Linked DNA regions of Homo sapiens: region 2 is linked to region 1. Evidence: fine-mapped expression QTL. Tissue or cell type: whole blood. Region 1 holds a variant in brackets; the other region holds the start of a gene. All regions are shown on one strand. Distances are between the middles of the regions.

Region 1 (7,776 bases):
GGTACATTTAACACAGCCTCCTGATATTTTGCTGCCACTTTTCACACTTGGTGGTGTGAAAGGGAAAAAAGGATGGGGGGACACTAGTTAAAGGCTGTAAAGACAGATTTTCTTCAGCACTGTTGCAACGGGAGAAAGTGAATTCGATATAGAGCTGAACTCAGTTCCAAATACAGCAAAGAAAGCTGGGGATTAGTAGTCAATGAAGAGAGTGAGGGGGTCCATGGTTGGAAAATTACTAAGGGGAAACACCAAGGGGCATCCTTGCTAAACTGACCAATCAGGATTCTTGTTACAGGCAGCCAAGGACTTACATATCAAGGGTAGGGGATAAAGAACTTGATCAGATATCAAGGGTATTTCAAGGCCACTCTTGAATCAAAAAAAAAAAAAAAAAAAAAAAGAAAGAAAGAAAGAAAGAAAAGAAAAAGAAAGCAAAATCAAGGGTGATCAGATATCAAGGCGGGGGGATTCCTGCTAAACTGACCAGATGGGCCAAAGACAAGGCCCAAGGACAAGGTCTAGTTGAAAAGAGAGCTCAGAGTAACCTGACAACACTTTGGTCAAGAAGAGAGTCTTTGTCAATGGCCACCGATAAGTATACAAATTTTACTTATATTGGTGAAATATGAGTTAGTTCTAGAAATAGGTAGAGAAATAATACTGGAAAGATGAGCCATTAAAAGTAATATTATAAAGTCTAAACCATTATTAATAATTTCATCAATGTGAATAATAAATAACAAAACCCAAGAGGCGAATTTGTACATGACTTAATTCTTTTTTTTTTTTTTTTTTTTTTTTTGTTATTCTGTCTCATCTTCCCCAAGTTAGATCAAATTTCAGGTATGAAGCAACTCAACTAATCTTTCCCCACTTTCAGCAGGCAGTTTCTCACTTGCCATATGCACAGCCCGTGAATGATGCTGAAGTTTGTGTCTGGATCAGCAGAACAGTGTTTCTCCTTTAAAGCGTGACAGATCAGCTTTCTGTTGACACCCAGTGCCCACAGGGTGATGAGGTTCCAGCAATCCCTGCCTTTTTCTCCCCGTCTGCTAAGAGAAATTCTGACACTGCCCCTCAGGATTGGATTATTCTTCCCACCATGGATCTAATTCAGATTGACATTGGGAAGTATGGGAGAGATGGAAACAGGGGCTTTACAGCAGAAAGGGCCCCAGGTTTACTGAGGACTGACTGCAAGAAGTAGGGGGAGCTAAATGGAAAAAAGTCCCTTTGGATTATGAGTTCTCAGAGAGTATGGCTGGAGAGTTGAGAGCAGGACTGAAGAGTGAGTCTCCTGGAGCAGGCAAGAGATGCCACGCAAGAGAAATGAGGTGTGAGGACTTCTCAGATGTGGTGCTGAGGGTTGTAAATTAGACCTCTTCATATTCTTTAGGAGATGCAAGAAAAAAATTATAATGATTTTTAAATGTTACTGGATTGTAGGATTGTGTTTCTTATAAGAAAACCTTGCCTTGAGGCTGGCTGTACTCTGAGAGGCCTGACTCCTATGAAAGTTACATTGAGAATCCTTGAGTTTGGGGTGCAAAGCTGAGTGCTAGGTCCCTTTAACATTTACAATATAGCAATGAGGCGGCTTCAGTTTCTGAACTGAACCCGGTGGAGGTAAATTGATTCCACTCCTCTGAAAGCTAGCTTGAATGCGGTGACGGTTCTCTCAATTCTTCTCAAGAGAGCATATAAGGGGCAAAAACTGGCTTTGAGACACCCCTGGATGATCACACACAAAACGCCTAATAATGGACAAAGAAAACAGCGATGTTTCAGCCGCACCTGCTGACCTGAAAGTAAGTACAGGGTGAGAAACTTTCTCTTACTTGAATGCCATTTATTGTTGACCCTGTTAGTAAAATGAGATTGTATGACCTTATAAACATAAAGGAAACAATAATAAAATATTTTATCTTCTTATGGTAATTAATGGGTTTTACAAATGTGAGCTTATTATAAAGTGCTGTACTTGGCAATTGATTTGTAGCCGTTTTTCTAAAACTCCAGGGAAATTGTACTGATCTCTACACAAATTCCATTTTAAAATTTAATCAGTGCTAACTGAGACTGCCTATAATGTGTTTCTGCACTTAAAAGATCCAAACTTGGCTTTGTCAGTTCAACATGTACTGGCATTTCTGCGTGTTTCTTTATTTCTTTTGGGGGAGCACTTGAAAGTAGCTTGATACCATCGACAACTCATTCTACAATGGAATGTTTCTCTCTTTAGAAACCCAGTCCTCATTCCTGCAGGACACCACATTAAATGATGTCTGGTCTAGTTCAATTTCACCAGAAAGGATACAAGCAACACTTCACTCCAGGGGTTGACAAGGTGTTTGGCAAAAAGAATGAAGGGGCCATGAATAATTCAGAGTGTACGTGGCCACGTATTATCCCATTAATTGGCAAGATTAAAGACTGGAGGGCATGAATTTTGAAGAGAAGAGTGAGGGAGAGGAAAAGAGAAGGAGAGAACTCTTAAGGACAGTGCAAAAGAGAGATTATTTCTTTGGCATTGGCATTCCATATTGTTGCCTTTAAAAGAATGTGTGGTTAAAAGCTATTTCGTCTCTGGAGTTTAGTTACCCTGACTTGTATAAATCTCTCCTTAAATGAAGCTAAACTCTTGAATACATTATTAAAGAATTCACAGCATCAAATAGCAGAGGGTAGACAAGAAAATAAAAGAGGAGGAAGGGAAACAATTAAATAATGTATTTTTTACTCTTGCACATAACACTATGCACATCAATACACTTAAACCAACAATTTTCTAATCTAATGAGTGTTCTATTTCATTCTTCCATTTACTTTTAAATAATTATTTCATTTATAATTGAGAAACTGTGGCTGGCAATGGCAGCGGCTGGCAATGGCAAAACAAACATATTTAATTCCTATAAACCCACAACCCTACAACCGTATGTAAACACACATGCTTTACGAACAATTTGTGCAGTTACAAATTGCACAAATTTGTACAATCTATGCAAATTATCATATCACCTTTACTTTTCCTTCCTACCACCCAGTCATGAAGCTGTAACTAGGAAATCAATTCATTTCTGTGGGGAACTCACTTATCTTCTTATTTTCAATCCTGCATCAGCCCAGAAATAATTGATTGTGAGAGAAAAACAATATAATACAAACATGTGAAACACACACATATACTAAAAGGACTGTGGACAGGCATAGTGGCTCACACCTGGAATCCCAGCACTTTGGGAGGCCAAGGTGGGTGGATCACCTGAGGTCAAGAGTTCAAGACCAACCTGACCAACATGGTGAAACCGCATCTCTACTACAAATACAGAATTAGCCAGGTGTGGTGGTGAGTGCCTGTAATCCCAGCTACTTGGGATGCTGAGGCAGGGGAATCGCTGGAACCCATGAGGCAGAGGTTGCAGTGAGCCAAGATCACTCCATTGCACTCCAGCCTGGTCAATAAGAGCAAAACTCTGTCAAAAAAAAAAAAAGGAGGGGGGAGGGGCTGTGTACACACATGATTCTACCCACATAGAATCTTAACCTTAACCTCCTAACCTTCAAGTCCTCTAATCTACTTTACCCCATGAAATTCAGGCCTCTCCTCCACAGCATCTATTCAACAGAGTTGGAGAGTTGAGGAAAGAACCTAGAAACTGTTGCGGGAAGTCAGCGACCCTGAATGGAGGGAATTGCTGAAGCCATGGCAGAAGAACATAAATTGTGAAGATTTCACGGACATTTATTGGTTCCCTAAATTAA[T/C]ACTTTCATAATTTCTTACGCCTGTCTTTACTGCAGTCTCTGAACATAAATTGTGAAGAGTTCATGGACATTTATCATTTCCCCAATCAATACTCTCATAATTTCCTATGACTGTCTTTACTTTAATCTCTTAATCCCGTCATCTTTGTAAACTGAGGATGTATGTAGCCTCAGGACCCTGTGATGATTGCGTTAACTGCACAAATTGTTCGTAAAGCATGTGTGTTTGAACAATATGAAATCTGGGCACCTTGAAAAAAGAACAGGATAACAGCAATGTTCAGGGAACAAGGGAGATAACCATTGGGTCTGACTGCCATGCAGGACAGAGCCATATTTCTCTTATTGCCAAAAATGGGTAAGAGAAATATCGCTAAATTCTTTCCCCAGTAAGGAATATTAATAATTAACAGCCCTGGGAAAAGAAAGCATTCCCAGGAAGAGACCTCTAAAATGGCCGTCTAGGAGTGTCTGCCTTATGCAGTTGCAGATAAGGGATGAAACACACCCTAGTCTCCTGCAGCACCCCCAGGCTTGCTAGGATTAGGAAATTCCAGGTTGGCGAATTCTAGTCAGACCAGTTCTCTGCTCTTGAACCCTGTTTCCTGCTAAGATGTTTATCAATGACAATGTGTGCCCAGCAGGATGTGGACCTTCATTAGCAATGCTAGTTTCACCCTGACCTTGTGATCTTGCTCTGACCTTCTGCCTTGTGATATTTTATTGCCTTTGAAGCACGTGATCTCTGTGGCCCACACCCTATTCATACACTACCTCCCCTTTGAAAATCGCTAATAAAAACTTGCTGGTTTTGTGGCTGAGGGGGCATCATGGAACCTGCCGACATGTGATGTCTTCCCCGGACACCCAGCTTTAAAATTTCTCTCTTTTGTACTCTTTCTCTTTATTTCTCAGACCGGCCGACACTTAGGGAAAATAGAAAAGAACCTACATTGAAATATCGGGGGCTGGTTCCCCCAATAGAAACCATTTCACTAGGGTTTGTATACAGTAATGTCTAGTTTATCTGATCTTAATTTTGTGACTTGGTGCAAATCAAGTTATTATACTTATGTAAATAATTTGATATACTTACATAAATATGAATGCTTAAATAGTCATATTTAGGCCTTTTAGTACCAACATCTCCTGACTGGGTAGTTTCATTTAAGATCCTGTCTACTTCTACTTGGTAACATATCTTATTTCTTTTTTTTGAAGATATCCAATATCTCAGTCCAAGTGGTCAGTGCCCAAAAGAAGCTGCCAGTGAGACGACCACCGTTGCCAGGGAGACGACTACCATTGCCAGGAAGACGACCACCACAAAGACCCATTGGCAAAGCCAAACCCAAGAAGCAATCCAAGAAAAAAGTTCCCTTTTGGAATGTACAAAATAAAATCATTCTCTTCACAGTATTTTTATTCATCCTAGCAGTCATAGCCTGGACACTTCTGTGGCTGTATATCAGTAAGTTAAAAATCTGTGTTTCTTTGGGGTTAGGGCTTATGGTATGAGTCCAGCATTAGCAATGCAGCCCTAATCTGCCATAGGTATTTCTGATGGGATTTTCCTTTTTCCAATATGGATACACCATTTCCAAAACTGGTGTTGATGGTTTTTTATTATTTTGTTTTGAGACAAGGTCTTGCTCTGTCACCCAGGCTGGAGTGTAGTGGCACAATCACAGCTCACTGCAACCTTGAACTCCTGGGCTCAAGCAATCCTGCTGCCTCAGCCTCCCGAGTAGCTGAGACCACAGGTCTATGCCAGCACACCTGGGCTAACTGGCTAACTTTTAAAGTTTGTTGTAGAGACAGAGTTCTCACTATGATGCCCAGGCTGGTCCCAAACTCCTGTACTCAAACAATCCTCCCACCTTGGCCTTCCAAAGTGCTAGGATTACAGGCGTGAACCATGGTGCCCGGCCTGGTGTTGATATTTTAAGGAGACATAAGCCAGAATTCTCTTTCTCATTTCTTTTTTTTTTTTACCAACACCATTTTCTCCCCATAGGAGAGCAAGAGGAGGAGATTGGGGATAGGATGGGAAGAGCTGAGAAGGATGCTCAGGAGATTTTGACTGGTTCAGAAATGTAATGCATTTGTAGCTTTAAAAAAATTAATGGAATGCTAAGCTGTTTCATTTCCTCATTCCACCCACCACCTGTTTCTAGGCAACCTTGAATTTCCGGCTCCCTGAGCTCCATTTTGCACATGCATCTTTCTCTCCTCTGTTATTACGTGTTTGTTGATCTGACTGATCCTTTTGGACAGGTGTCATAACTAAGCCCTTTCCTATAGAGTTCTCACTTATGCAACACTGCAAGTATAGCCTTTGTTGACTTGTATCGGAGTTGCCATCTATACATGTTAATGTATTTGATACAAAATCATGCACCATGATATAATGTGAAATACATAGTTATTCTGTGCCCTAGATTTCTGGCTCAGAGCTTCTAACATTCTGTAACTTCCTGAATGATAGGAGTGATAGGAGCATCTTTTGGTTTATATACATACATTTTGTTATAATATTTGATTGTAGTCCTTAGATCCTAACACAGAGCTTCTAAGAATGTCTTTTTGTATATTAACAAAGTGACTGGTGGCTGAAAGCCCCTAGGTAACCAGAGAAACCAACCACATGCTTAGAGGATTGTAACTTTCAAGAGGGGGCTGAAGATTGAGCTTAATCACGAATGCACAATGATTTAAAACTGACCTCTGTAAAAACCAAGGAGCTTCCAGGTTGGTGAACATATCCAGTTGCTGGGAGGGTGGCATGCTCCAACTCCACAGGGACAGAAGCTCCTACTCTAGAGACCCTTCTGGACCTCGCTGTAGGTACTTCTTCATCTGGCTGCTCATCTGTATCCTTTATAATAAAGAAGGAATAGTAAGTAAAGTGTTTCTCTGAGTTCTGTGAGTCATTTTAGCAAATTATGAAACCTGAGGGCTTTATGAGAACAGCCAATTTGTAGCCAATTTGGACAGCAGTGTGGGTAGCCTGGGGACCTACTACTTCTGATTGGGATCTGCATTGGGGGGCAGTCTAGTAAGAATGTGCCTTTAACCTTTGGGGTCTGACACGAACTCTTGGTAGCTGGTGTCAGAATTGAATTGAATCATTGGACATCCAGTTGGTGTCTGCAATGAATTGGAGAGTTGCTTGGTGTGCGGAACCCCTGCCCCCACCCCCACATTTGGTGACAGAAGTGTTATGGGTAGAGAAACAGTTTTCCTAGATGTACTCTCAGAGATATGAAAATCTGATTGGAAGGGAAGACTTTCAGGCAAAGAATGAAGGAATACTGTCTTGAACGGTTCAGGTCACTTATATGCACATAAATTGATCACTTGTGATTTGCTTGGCAGAATGTAGGGCATCAAACACACCACGATGCATCTCCTACCTTCAGAAAGCTCACAGATGCATTTTCTACTTTCAGAAAGTTCAGAGTTCAGTGCTAGAGAGAAGGTGTGAGTTTTTTTGCTTAAGTGATTATCTTGTGATGACAGAAGAAAGACATCCAAATTGCCCAGGGATGGCATCCAGAGAAGGGTTCATGAACTGGTTCCCGAACATTCATTTGATACATCTTGAGACTGTTCATTATGTGTTGGGTCCTGGGGTAGGCATGGGAGCAGAGTGGTGAGCAAGATAAGATCTCTGTCCTTGAGGAAACTGGTGGGGAAGTCAAGTCAATGGGCCATTAAGACAAACACACACAACCCCAACCCAGAACAAAGAAGCTTATTTGCCGTGGTTTCTCTGCTGTTCCCCAGCTGACACATTTGCACTGTCCTAGCATTTTTACATAAAGTTTTAGAACATCCTTGTGCAGATGTAGTTTGTTGGCTTATAAAAATCAGAGAAGGCCACTTCATGGAAACAGATCAGTACAAGCAAAGGGAGACTGGTATGGACCAGTAAGAATTTTTCAATAGAAATCAGGTTAGTTTTGATACAGGAAATCTGGGCATGGAGGGTGGCCTTGAAAAAGG
Region 2 (7,776 bases), 500 kb before region 1:
CAAAATAAATATTCAAAGATTACTTATTATAATTATCTAATTGAATTATATAATTTTATTTCTGAAAGTAAAATGCCAGGTGGAAATTTTATATATATCTTACCTAAAATTATTTTTTGTACATCTATAAAATGAATTTTTAACATGCATGTGGTAAAAATTCATTTTCTTTATATGTACATGTTTATGAAGAAATCTAGACAAATATACACCATATAGGTCTTGGTAGTCTTTGGGCAGTTAGAATTCTTTCTTATCCATTTAAATTTTCTTTCTTATCCATTTAAAATGGTTTCATGTAATGAGCAGATATTGATGTTGTAACTGAAAAAGAAGTATTAAACTAAAATTAGTCTTTCATGGATGGAATTCGGCATGGTGAAAATGGTGATAAAACAGATTGCTATGCTGAAAGTCTCATGAAATTCTTTTTCATTACATGCTAACTCATAAAACTCATAAAATTTGAGTGAAAACCAAAAGAACTCTACTCTGATGAAGGCAGGACTGCTAGCTGTGCCATAATAGGTTATCTTTCACATCCATCAAAAATCTATTGATCATTTAATAACTGCTCCTTGATTAGGGTGGTTCTTCCAGCAAGAATCCAACTCTGTTTGTTTTCCCTTTTTCCTAATTCTGAGGCATGAAACTTTATAGGATATTTTGATTCCATGCCCAATCGTACATCTCACCTTACAGCCTCTTTATTGGTAATGACCTTGCTTTCATCATGCTTCGCCATGCCAGTCAGCCCATTCTCATCCTAAAGTGCCCAAAGAAACATAAACTCCTAACAAGTCTTCTGTTTCTCTGTTCTCCTTTCTTCCATTCATTTCACACACGCCCACCCAATTTATCCTTTTAAAATGTTACTTTAAATATATGACTCATATGCTGAAATATCTTTAGGGAGTCTCTCTGACATGAGGAAAAAACCCACACCCTTTAGCCTAGAATTCAAAGCTCTTGGACAGCTTTGTCTGCTCCAAGTCCCCTAATACAGCCTCTGCTAAACCGGAATAGCCCACTCACTAAATGGCCTTGAACTTCAACACTGTCAAGTGTTGGCTCTTCCTGTTTCTTCTGCCTGGAATGACTTAGCTTGCGGTTTCTACCAGTCTGACGCCTATAGGGCCAAGTTTAGATTCCATACTTCATATGCTCTTGGCCCACTCTACCCCTAAGATAACTCCCCCTTTGCTAAAATCCTGCCCTACCTTCTCATTTGGGCTGTGCTTTATGCTGCTTGACTTTTTTGGTGCACATGGATGCTTCCTCCCAGCTAAATGGTAACTGCCTTAAAACTGAGGGTTGTGTTTTATCTTTGGTATTTTAAAATTATCTAGAACTATGCCTCTTCAGTAATCTCTTAAGAATTGACATACAGCAAGTATTTTTTAATTAACTGAAACCTTAACCATCATGTTTTCTAAGCATTTTGGAAAACATGCAAAAGTATAGCACTCCCATTTTTATTTTTAGTAAGTGTTTAAAGATAAGTAAGTAATATTTGAGTTAACCATTATGAAAACCACAAAAGTAAGTTTACCTTTTGCTCAACTTCCTGTTTCTGAAAATGTCCTTTTCTCACTGAGTGTGTTTAGCTAGAGCATTTAAAAAGTTTGTCCAAAACACACAATCATGGCTTGCCTTTAGCAGAAATAATGTGTGTTCCTGCTTCTCTTTGTAAATAATTGAATTTGCCTCTGCAGTTCAAGAAGATCACGATTTCTTTTTGTGTGTGAAACTGACTTGCTTCTGTTTTCTCCTTATGTGCAGCAGACTATAAGGCAGAAGAAACCCTGTGCAATCGGGATATGGTGGGTAGGGAGGATAATAGAAGAGATTGACATGACTTCCATAGAAGAGTTATTTTTAAGTATAGAGAACGCCTGTCTATCCCCATGCTGAAAGAGCCTTTAGAAAATATTACCAGGATTGAAAGGCGGTGGGGGCAATTCCCATCACCTGGGATAGCCGTGCCAGTCTGCGGAGTGTTGCTGCCACCTGCTGCATGCAAACAGCCATGGAGGGGCTGTTGCCTGGGTCTTGCAGCTGCAGGACACCCGAAGTGTAAGCGTTCAGTTAATATTCTGTGGCCATGCATCTGAAATTGTTATACTTTCAGAACCTGTGTGGATCCCAAAGAAAAATTAATCAAATCTGATGGCTTCAGGCCATAGAAGTTTCTAGATATAAGAATCATTAACTAAGCCCTGAACAATACACAGAAGACAGATTTGCCGTATAGCCACTAAATGCATGGCTCAGGTAGCCCAACCCCAATGAGAGGCAAGAATTCTACTGAAAGTAAGTCTGTAGCACTGGAAAATAAACGACCATTTCCATGTTTCTGAGTTTACAGACTTTTTTGGAACAACTGTTTCACTTTAATACAATAAAAGATAGGAGAAGTCTAAATACCCCAAAGAGGGTATTGTTCTTAGAGAATTCAATAAATGTATATTTGAATTGGTTTCTACTTAGGTAAATTCCTCTTAATATGAAAAATGGAACGAGATCATAGAATCCCTTCTCCAGGCTTGTAATGTGTCCTGATTTAATAGGGACACCAACGTGCAAATCAGGATCTTCATAGTGCATCTCCAGGACTATTTTTGCTGCTATGCTTCATAAAACTTTGATTTACTAGAATTTCCAGGGGCAATGGGAAGAGATGAAGCTACCCAGAGCAGTTATGTCTCTTCCTGACCTTCTATAAAGGACTTTGAGTTCCCAGGCCTTCCCTGGAAAATCACTGTCAGTACTACCTGACCCAATATCCCCAGTGACCTGAAACTCATGGGAAGTTGGGAAGGGGTGATAATAAAGGTTTGGGGAGCACTGGACTAGGCAAGCAGTAACTACATCTAAATTCTGCAAGAAATCATTAGCTGAGGAATACTGAATAAGTATGGCAATTATCATGGCAAGTATTTGCAGTGGTGGTATAGGGGGTGATCTGGACGTCCAGGAAGACAGTCGCCCTTGTTTATTTACATGAAAACCTCTCTTCTCCCATCTAAATTTAATCTCCTGAATGGCAAAAGCATTTCCTTCTGTCTTAGCATCGTCCATATTCACCACGAGTCCTTGCATAGGAGAGATTGGTGTATACATGATGACAACCTGACGAAAATTATCTCCACCTCACCTGAAAAGAATTCCCATCTCAGGATTACAACTGGCCTTTTCATTTGTCTTTGGTCTTGCTAGGTGGTACGTATATTCTAGTAATGAGATTAGGGTCACAGGATATTTTAATCATTCATACGGTTGTATGAAGACACACATGTTTATTTGTAGTTATTCTTTGTCCATCAAACTTACAGTAGTCCTCAGTCTAATGCTTGTTTTCTTAATGTTGGAGGGTGATGACAGCCTATTTTATCTCAGGCTGAAAAACTAATACAATTAAATCAGAGAATCATAGCAGGGAACAGTCATCGTGTTCTACGAATAGCCAGACATTTTTACCAAGGGGTCACTTTCCTGAAACCTGTTTGCGGTTCTCTGTAAATAGAAGTAACTAGGCAGATGTAATAAGCCTAATAGCTCACTGAGGTGGGAATTCTCTGCCTTTGGATTCTGATTGTTACTGCCTTGCTTTGGCTTAGGCATGGATAAACTCTTCTGTGGTGAACAAAAATGGCCTCCAGCCAACCTGGTGGGAGACTTCCCTATCTGACCTCCAACCTTCCCTCGTCTTCCCAGACGAGGGGTAGAAAAGTAGCCCTCACTCCTCCACTCCCAGGAAATGTGCATTTCCCTGCAAGAGGAGAGACAATAAAATTTGGTTTGATAGCTGACACTATTCCCTGTTACTTTTCAGATTTTATTAAAATTAAATGTGTTAATTCTTTGTTCTTTCACCCCAGGGCAATTCTGGAAAGAAAACATATCTTAAGATTGAACAGAAAAACTATTATGAAAAACACCAAGCTCACATTTGTTAAATGACTTTGTGCTCTTGAAAAAAATGTATAAAAAGCACATTGCCAACTGCTCTGCGTGATATCCTTTGTTTGGATTTTAGACGCAGCTTGACTGACACAGAGATCCTGAATAAGAGACTCTTTGGATACTGAAAAGTCTCTTAAATAAGGTGATACACAAATTTCAGAGAACAATTTCAACATTGTTCTGTCGAACGTTATACTCAGTCCTGAACCACATTACTTTCCTGTCTACGTTTCATTTCCTGGGGGCTTGCCAAGTGATAAACAGACCCAGGCGTGTGTGGTAGAGTTCGGGTTTTTTAGCACGAAGTGGGTGGCTGGAGTTTGCTTGAAAACATCAATTGACTTTGTGATCATTACAGAAATGCTGGTGTAAGGTGTTCAGAAGACAATGGAGAAAAAATGGAAATACTGTGCTGTCTATTACATCATCCAGATACATTTTGTCAAGGGTAAGACTTCCAGTTGTCCCTTCTTGTCGGATGGGCCGCTTTAGGGGCGGATGGGGCCTCTGTTCATTTAAAATGCCTTGTGACTGCTGCTGAAATTGATCACCAAAGGACAAATCATTACTAAGGGTTTCAGTTATGTATTTAAGCGGCAGGTATAAGAGAGATGCTAGAATCTAGAAATGATTACTAATGAACACTAAAAATAAGAAGGGAATGGGTCATTTGTGCCACTGCTCTGAGGCATTTTCACCCATTTCCTTTCTAACAGGATCTCTGGAGTAATTGGCAAATTGTGTTTCTTGGAAATGAAATGCTCTCCAAATGGTAGCCAAAACAACTGCGGAAAAATTAAAAATTACAAAGCCATCAACGCTCAGAGATCCTTGTTTAACTTTTTTCTCTCTCAAGTACTCTCTTTCTTTTGGATATAACAAGTATTTCTCATCCAAATACTAAGGTCTTTGGGAGTTGAAAACACGTTGAATTTTAATGAGGCATGTGTAGGTATGAACCTGGGAGACAAAGTGGAATCCTTATGACAGTGGGAACGAGAGCCTAATGGGCCTATTTAAAAAGAGAAGGAAGCAAGATTAGTTCTGTATTCCACAGTATGAGAGTATCATAGTAAGCCTGAGTGTCTTAAGAATTAACTGTGCTTTTCAGACATAGCTATGAAAATATTAAGGAGAATTTCTAAATCAAAAGAGATTTGGAATATAATGCTGTAGATAGGATCAGAGCCATATTTTCAGGCAAAGGATAGCTCACAGGAAGTTACATTAAACTGTACTAACCTCTGCCTACCAAACTTTTGCATCCACAGAAGTATGATAATTCCCATTTGTCAAGTACTTTTACTTTTAAGAGGCTTGTTTCTTCTCAGTTGCTTGTCATCTTTTTATCTTTTCCTTTTGTGAGCTTCAGTGGTACTTGTCACAATAATATATATCATTTCTGTAACAGGATTCCATGTTAATTCTAAAACTGAGGCCAACACTATTGAAGGCATGTCACAGTCTCAATGCTTAACACATTTTAAGTGTCCTGTATCACTCAGTCAGACTGCTGATGGGAAAGAGACTCTACTTATGTCTAGTATTTCAGACCATCGATTAGAGGTGATACTAAGTGGAACCTCTACCTAAGGTTAGATGAGGTCCTTTCAATCCTTGTATATTGAAAGTGAAATTTCTTACTCTAATCAACTAGACTGAATTTGGGAGACAGTTTGGAAGTTATGTGGAAGGAAAATAAAATAAAATAAGTAATAATAAAGTTTAAAATAATAAGCATAACATAGGTAATAGTTAACATTAAGTATAGGTTACTTAGAAGTTATATGTAGGCTAAGAAATTTAAGTAGCCCCTCCCAGCATTGCTAACAAGTTGCAGCTGTGAGCTTATCTCAACCTTCCAAGCTTCTTGCCTGCCCCCAGACCCCCACATATTTCTGTAACTCCTGTTTTACCTTACCCCATCTCTGTCTAGCTTCAAGATTGACTGGTTAAGATAACTAAATTGTAAGTTTTCTCAGAATTGTCACGGGTTAAATAATTTACTGTCTTTGCCTGAAACCTGTATCCTGCCTTGTTTTCCCACCTCAAACGACATATAAGCAAGCCTGCTTTCTTTGTCAGAGTCAGCAGCCATTTTGGGCATGAGTCTGCTGTGGGCCTGGATGCCTGAATTAAATAAAGTTCTCTTTGGTCTCTAAAGGTCTCTTTGTCTTCCTTGGCTGGAGTTTTACTGTTATACTTATGAGGGTTATAGAAAGACCACAGACTCTGGGCAACTGAATTCATTCTTTTACTGGAGGTGTGACTTTTTTTGTTTTGTTTCGTTTTTCGTTTTTTTGAGATGGAGTCTCACTCTGTTGCCAGGCTGGAGTGCAGTGGCATGATTTCGGCTCACTGTAATCTCCGCCTCCCAGGTTCAAGCGATTCTCCTGCTTCAGCCTCCCAAGTAGCTGGGACTACAGGCGTGCACCACCACGCCCAGCTAATTTTTGTATTTTTAGTAGAGACGGGGTTTTGCCGTGTTGGCCAGGATGGTCTGGTTCTCTTGACCTCATGATCTGCCCACCTCAGCCTCCCAAAGTGCTGGGATTACAGGCGTGAGCCACTGCGCCAGGCCTGGAGGTGTGACTTTGAGCATACTGTTTCATCTCTCTGTGGCCCAGTTTCTTCCTCATAAAAAGGGGTTAACAACATCACCTATGGCGTGTGAGGGGGATTAAACAAGATAAGATATGAAAGGCCCTTGTAAACATGTATTTTTCAAAGAAATTGCTATACACATATCATTTATTTTTGCAGTTTCAGAAAGCATCACGTGTGTATTATATTCAGCTGTCGTTTTATAACCCAAAAAGCCAATTATATTAAACGTAAGAAGAATCGTCATACTAAGTTTGCTGGTGTGCTTCAATTTTCAAATAGGCTTAATTTTATTCACAGGTAGTCTGAAACCTTCAATTATATTTTGGTCAGACCAACACATAGATAAATATTTAGAAGTCAGTAATTACCTCTAGCTTCTCTACGTAAATGCCTCCTCATTTATATTGTCTCATGCATCTCTATCTGAGTGAGACACAAGCTCTACTCTATTCCTAAAGCAGCCAGGGAGAAATTTCCTCAGTTGCTCCCCTCACCTTACTGAAGTGACTAGGGTTTTTAATTAAGCGTCATTCTATGTGAATTATTTAAACTCATGGCTCATGTTCTTTCTTTTCAGGAGTTTGGGAAAAAACAGTCAACACAGAAGAAAATGTTTATGCTACACTTGGCTCTGATGTCAACCTGACCTGCCAAACACAGACAGTAGGCTTCTTCGTGCAGATGCAATGGTCCAAGGTCACCAATAAGATAGACCTGATTGCTGTCTATCATCCCCAATACGGCTTCTACTGTGCCTATGGGAGACCCTGTGAGTCACTTGTGACTTTCACAGAAACTCCTGAGAATGGGTCAAAATGGACTCTGCACTTAAGGAATATGTCTTGTTCAGTCAGTGGAAGGTACGAGTGTATGCTTGTTCTGTATCCAGAGGGCATTCAGACTAAAATCTACAACCTTCTCATTCAGACACACGGTAAGCATAACTGGTAGAGGGATGTGCTTTCATTCAGCTCTCTCTCATTCAACAAATGTACATTTTAAGAAAAGCAAGGTTAGGCTTGGTGCTCAGCATACAAAGGTTGAGCAGAAAGAGCTACTGTCTGATAAGAGAGACAGGAAGTGACCACAGCATTTAAGTAAATAAATGTAAACTTGCAACAGTGATAAGTGTCGATAATAAATACTGTAACAGTCTTGTGAAGGAGCACATCACAGAGGCCATTGAAATTGTCCTTTAGAAAT

What was found. PIP is the estimated chance that this variant, and not a neighbour inherited with it, causes the effect.
Region 2: it holds the start of CD96, and the variant in region 1 is fine-mapped to the expression of CD96 in whole blood (GTEx, PIP 0.98).

The regions. Positions count from the first base shown.
Region 1 is chr3:112,033,083-112,040,858 of GRCh38, forward strand. TMPRSS7 (transmembrane serine protease 7) reads left to right here and starts at 1,654. Exons shown (of 18, transcript NM_001395507.1): 1 at 1,654-1,811; 2 at 4,990-5,239. The coding sequence starts at 1,764. The variant T/C (reference allele first, on the strand shown) is at 3,769.
Region 2 is chr3:111,537,896-111,545,671 of GRCh38, forward strand. It overlaps CD96 (CD96 molecule), which reads left to right and starts at 4,302. Exons shown (of 14, transcript NM_005816.5): 1 at 4,302-4,414; 2 at 7,151-7,507. The coding sequence starts at 4,354. It overlaps LOC105374039 (a long non-coding RNA gene), which reads left to right. Exons shown (of 3, transcript XR_001740846.1): 3 at 4,040-4,108.